2 separate regions of the Homo sapiens genome follow, and region 2 is linked to region 1. Evidence: fine-mapped expression QTL. Tissue or cell type: whole blood. Region 1 holds a variant in brackets; the other region holds the start of a gene. All regions are shown on one strand. Distances are from middle to middle.

Region 1 (2,910 bases):
GTAACCAACCCACTGACACCACCCACTGCCCATCCCTTGGTTCAGCTCAGCTTGAGCCTGGAAGGTCAACCCATTTAATTTATTTTATTTTATTTTATTTGAGGTTTTCTAACCCAGGTGGTTACTTGCATTTCCTTTTACTTGCATCTTCCATGAGGGAGGAAGAGAAGTGAATTCCCCAGGAACAAAGAACTTGATCAGCTCTCGCTTTCCCCTGTGGTTGTAGGAAAAGGCGGGTGTGAGCATTGAGAACAGCATGGGCCTAGCCCATAGGCTGCCCTGATTGGACTACCATTGACAATGGGGAGGGCTCACTGTCCCTGAACACCTGGAGTCTCTGGTACTTACACAGCACATTCCACTCCAAGGACCTCAAAGCTCTTTTCAGACACCTGATGCCAGGTGTGATCCCTACTGCAGGCAGAGCACCTGAGCCCCAAGAAGGGGAGAGGTCAGGCCAGAAAAGATACAAGTCTCCAGATGTCCAACTTCCTAGCTTCCACTGTCTCCTCACTGGCGCCTCAGGTCCTTCCTCAGGACGGCTCTAACACTCAGTTACTCAGGCCCCAAGAAGCAGGACCAAGCCTGCTACTGAGCACATACTCCATGACTGGCTCTGACTCTGCAGGCCCAGGTGCCAAAGCCTGACCTGGCTGGAGCACAGCAGGGCCAGCTGCCCCACGAGCTCGGGTGCTCACCTTGCTGCTCCAGAAGAGCATTCTGCCGCTTGAGGTCGTCAATATCTTGCTGGTGTGTGTGGTTTTTCCTTCGCATATACTGGATATATTCTGTGGCTTTGTCTAGGATTTGGGCCCGGGATGCCTGTGGCAATATGAGAAAAAGCACAGGGGACAAAATAAAAACCCAATCCAGGCAGTGAGGGAACCTGGCCTGCAGCAACTGCTTGGGTGGCTGGAAACGAGAGGGTAAGGTGGGAAAAGGCTGAAGAAATACAATAATGGCTACTGTAGGCTTTATTTATTTATTTATTTTTTTATTTTTTTGAGACAGAGTTTCGCTCTTGTTGCCCAAGCTGGAGTGCAACAGCGTGATCTTGGCTGACAGCAACCTCCGCCTCCTGGGTTCAAGTGATTCTCCTGCCTCAGCCTCCTGAGTAGCTAGGATTATAGGTGTGCGCCACCACGCCCATCTAATTTTTTTGTATTTTTAGTAGAAATGCGGTTTCACCATGTTAGCCAGGCTGGTCTCAAACTCCTGGCCTCAGGTGATCTGCCCACCTTGGCCTCCCAAAATGCTGGGATTATAGGTCACAGGTGTGAGCCACTGCGCCCAGCCTGTTGTTGTTGTTGTTGTTGTT[G/T]TTTTTTTTTTTTTGGAGACGTAGTCTCGCTCTGTTGCCCAGGCTGGAGTAGAGTGGTGTGATCTCAGCTCACTGCAACCTCCACCTCCCAGGTTCAAGTGATTCTTCTGCCTCAGCCTCCAGAGTAGCTGGGATTACAAGTACATGCCACGTTGCCTGGCTAATTTTTACATTTTTAATAAAGATGGGGTTTCACCATGTTGGCCAGACTGGTCTCAAACTCCTCACCTCAGGTGATCCACCTACCTCGGCCTCCCAAACTGCTGGGATTACAGGCGTGAGCCACTGCATCCGTGAAGGCCTTCTTTGTGACATACAAGGTGCCAAGTGCTTTACAGAGCTTAACTCACAAGATTAGTCTCAGAGGTAGCTCTACTAAGAACCCAAGGATCAGAGAAGTACACCGCTTTATTCAAAATCACCAGCTGCACAGTAGCATGGCCTGGCTTTAAACTCAGAGCCATCCGACTCCTGAACTGTACTCCTCCCATCTCCTCTGGTTCTTTAGGTTGCTTTAAAGTCTTTAGCTTGGCTATGTCTGGAAACATTAAAATACTACTTAAATGAAAGCTTTAGGTCACTAATTCTGCTAGGGCCTGGCTTGAGACAGGAATGGGTACAATGTGTTTCATCAAGACCCAAGATTCCAGCCAAACTCTGAAACCACTGTTAACTATTCCGAACTGAACAATGCTGCTGTGTCACTACTTCAGCCTTCCTGGCTAAAGAGACTTTCATAAAAAGCTGTCGGTGCTTGATGTCAACACAGGAAGAGCATGAGATTGGGCCATTTCAGGAAACAACCACACCTCTACAATGGCTGTGGGTTGCCTGGGTACTGCCTTGCTAGAGTAAGTTCGTAAGTCAATAACATGGATGTCATGTTACTGTGCCCCTAGACATCAAACTTGTCTGGGAGATTCTCTCCAGGCTACAAACATAGTCAGAGTTACTTATGGCCAGGCAGCCAGCCAAACTGGTAGAATAGTACAAAGCCAAGCGAAGCTCAAGGCGGGGTAGCCTAGTAGCTTAAGTATGGCCTTCCAGCCAGAGACTCCTGAGCAGCCGGAAAGCTTCTTACTCAGGGTAGGGAGTGCTTGACAATTCTGTATTACAAGCCCAATGGGTCCTAAACAACCAGAACACAACAGCGGGAGAAAGACAAAGAAAACATGTACACCGTGGCTAGCAAAACCAGATCTACTCATATTAAATCCTAACAATCTCAATTTATAGGCCTCAGTTTGGGCTGAGTTTCAGAAAGGTTTGTAAGGCCCGTGCTTATTCATAAGTCCTCACAAGTACTAGAATTTCCAGGCTTTCCTCTTTAGCACCCTTAAGGTAATTTCCTCAAGGAAATTGTTCATAATCAACCATTTTTATCAGGTGCAAATTACGTACAAGATACTAGGCAGATACTGTGGGGAAACAAAATGTATTAGTCATGGCTTCTTTGCCCCAAAGCTTACTTACTATCTAGTTGAGGAGATAAATATGTCTATACATGGAAATATCACAGGGCAGTGCTGACAAGCGTAACCTGACTAGCAGAGACTAGAGACACCACGGGAAAGATGGCTTCTGGCTGGGGT
Region 2 (2,910 bases), 24 kb after region 1:
CTTTTTTCCCTCAAATCTATTCATGAAACATCCATATTACTGTCTCAGACTCCAAAGACATGGAATTAGTGCTTATCTAAATCCACAGAACCATCTACTGAGAACATTAATATCAAAACCCTAAGAAATTATTGATAACACTCTATGGTCTCATCCATCACCTTTCAGCAAAGCTGTCTCTGCAATGCCACTTTTCTTCAGCTATTTTTTAATTTTCTTTATACCTTTTCTTCAAATACAGAGAATCAGACCATAATAACTTTATGTGACACTTTGATGATGTAACGTTTGGCTCCTCTACATTTCCAATTTTTGCATTAGAATACCATGTTGTGCTAGATTCTACGGGTCTATAGCAGTCACATGACTTGGTTAAAGGCGATTACCGCATGTGGCTTCAGCTTCACACAATTATACAGATATGGTTTAAAACCTACTTGTTCCTAAATAAATCTTCTGACCACTTTGCCCTGAAATAATACTACCAGACCAGAATGCTGCATTTCTCATTTCCACTTACATAGTGGCATCTGGATCCCCTATCTGAAAACTACAGAACAATTCAATTCTTTGCATACAGCTCCTCTTACTCACCTAGAATCACTGAACTTATCACCTGAGAATCTAGAATAATGGGATTTGCAACCCCCCCACCCTCCAGAACCAGGCCCCACCTCACCTTAGTGGTTAACATTAGAGTTTACTACAATATTAAAAGTAATAGTACGATCTCTTTTTCTCTCTGACCCCAAAAAGGAATAGAACTGAACGGAAATAAAAATGAAATGGAGAGTAGGAGACGTACCGCAGATTGAAACCTCGGTTGCTCTTCCTGGAATAAGAGAGAAAAAAAAAAATAGAAAATATAGAAGTTATTTTTACACTTAACATTCAATAATAAGAAAGAAAATGCCGGCGGCAGAGGAAGCGGAGGGTGGGGAGTCAGCCCGACACCCCTTCCTCCCTCCCCACCCCTTGCCCCCACCCTTCCACCCTCGGCGGGATCCGGTAGCAGGGTAGAGGGGTCCCGAGCGCCGCCCCTCCTTCCGGGATCCGACCTGGGCCAGAGGGGTCCCGAGCACTGTCTCCTCCCTGCAGACCCAGCTCGGGCATCTAGGCACCCCCAACCCCTCTCCGCCCTTCCCCGGCCCCCAGGATCCGCGGGTCACGGGAGGAGAGGATCGCAGTCCGAAGGGGCAGGTCCTGAACGCCGTCCCCTTCCCCTGGATCCGGACAATGGGATCCCGGGCGCCCCCCATCCTTGTCCCCCGGATCCTGAGCCGGGGAAGGTGGGAGCGGGAGGCCGCAGCACCCTCCCGCAAGGGAGGAGGTGGGGGTCCCAGAAGCCGCGTGTCTTCCCCCAACCTCCAGTCCCAGGAGGCCGCTCCGGCCAGGAGCCGGAGGGGAGCGAACCGGGAACGCGACGGAGGCACTCCTGGCCCCGAGGGGAAGGGGAAGGAGGCGGCGGCAGCCCGGCCCCCTCCCGCCGTCGCCCCGCTAAGAGCCCCGGCCGCTGTCCCCGCCTGACAACCCGCACGGGAAGGAAGAAGCCCCAGGACTCACGTCGCTCTCCACCTCGATGTCATCGTTATCGCTCATTTCCTACGGCCCAGGGAGCGGCCACTGCAGCGGCGGCGGGGAGGGGAAGGGGTGAAGGGGAGGGGGAAGTCACCGACAACAACAAGCCGAGTCCCCCCCACACACACACTCACTCACTCACTCACTCGCTCTCTCACTCACACACACACACAACACGGGCAAGAACCACCTCCTCACTGCAGCACCGGATCAACGGCGGCACGCACGCCCGGTCGGCCCCCGCCACGTGACCAGGCTCGCAGCGCTGGGGCAGCCGAGACTTGTAGTTCTTGTCCCTCTAACAGACGGCCCGGGTAGCTCCAGAAAAACTACAAATCCCGGAAGAAACCGCATCCAGGCGACGCCAGCCCGGCTTGTTGACGGAGCCCAAGGCGCCTGCGCGTCCCGGGGAGGGGGGGGGGGGCGGGGGGGGGCGGGGAGAGCCGCGGCGCGGCGCCTCCTGGGAGTCGTAGTCCGCAGACCGCGAGTTGTCAGGAGATTTTCCTCCCGAGGCGGCAGAGGAGGCTGCTGGGAAGACAGGACACGTGGAGGGAGCTGGAACTCCTGGAGCCGGGCACCGTCTGCGCGCTGGACGCCGGGCCCAGGGGACTGGGTGGAGTCTCTGGGGGAGTAGCCGGCTGTCTAAATAATGCTGCCTCTCTTTGGTGTGACTGGTTATACTTTGTCTTCTTCATACGGAGTGGTTCCGTTTTGCGCCTAGGGGCGTAACCCGCCCGGGAGGGAATCTGGCTGCGGCGGACCAGGGGGCGCGGCTCGGGATGCCTGCGCGAACCCTCGGGGGCTGGTGGGGAGGTGTCAGTGGCAGGTGTTTCGTGGTGCTACCGGACAGGCAGAATGACCGACCTCGCCGGGCGACCGCTCCCAGCCGCGAGAATCCTGTATTCGTTTATCTGGGAGTGACCATCCTCGCTACTCAGCTACTCACGTGAGGCTCCAGCGTTCACACAACGCGAACCCTCAACCACTATGGACGTGGAAGTAAAAGCCCCTTCAGAGTTTGTTGTAGCCCAGACAGTTTAGGCAATATCCCAGCTCAGAGTACCATAATTAAGATTGCAAAAAGGATCAATATGGGAAACTTTTGCAGTTCCCTGTCCAGTTAAAATCATATTTATATACTGTGGCATGAAGTGTAATCACATGCATTCCACCGATATTTATTGAACACCTAACTTGCCACAAGGGGATGCCATAACGGATAAGACCAAAACCATCCCTGCCTTCATGCAGCTCACAGCTGTGCAAGCAAGCGTGCCGGTCCTGCCGCCATTGTAAGAGTGTGCAACAAGTCCCATGGGAAGGAAGAAAACC

Evidence for each region.
Region 2: it holds the start of MAX, and the variant in region 1 is fine-mapped to the expression of MAX in whole blood (TOPMed, PIP above 0.99).

The regions. Positions count from the first base shown.
Region 1 is chr14:65,077,215-65,080,124 of GRCh38, forward strand. It overlaps MAX (MYC associated factor X), which reads right to left. Exons shown (of 5, transcript NM_002382.5): 4 at 699-822. Among named protein-coding and RNA genes, the nearest start is that of MAX-AS1, 11 kb to the right of the region's middle. RefSeq lists an enhancer at 189-1,164. The variant G/T (reference allele first, on the strand shown) is at 1,319.
Region 2 is chr14:65,100,741-65,103,650 of GRCh38, forward strand. It overlaps MAX (MYC associated factor X), which reads right to left and starts at 1,777. Exons shown (of 5, transcript NM_002382.5): 1 at 1,564-1,777; 2 at 806-832. The coding sequence starts at 1,599. RefSeq lists enhancers at 848-1,348, 2,042-2,191 and a silencer at 1,362-1,711.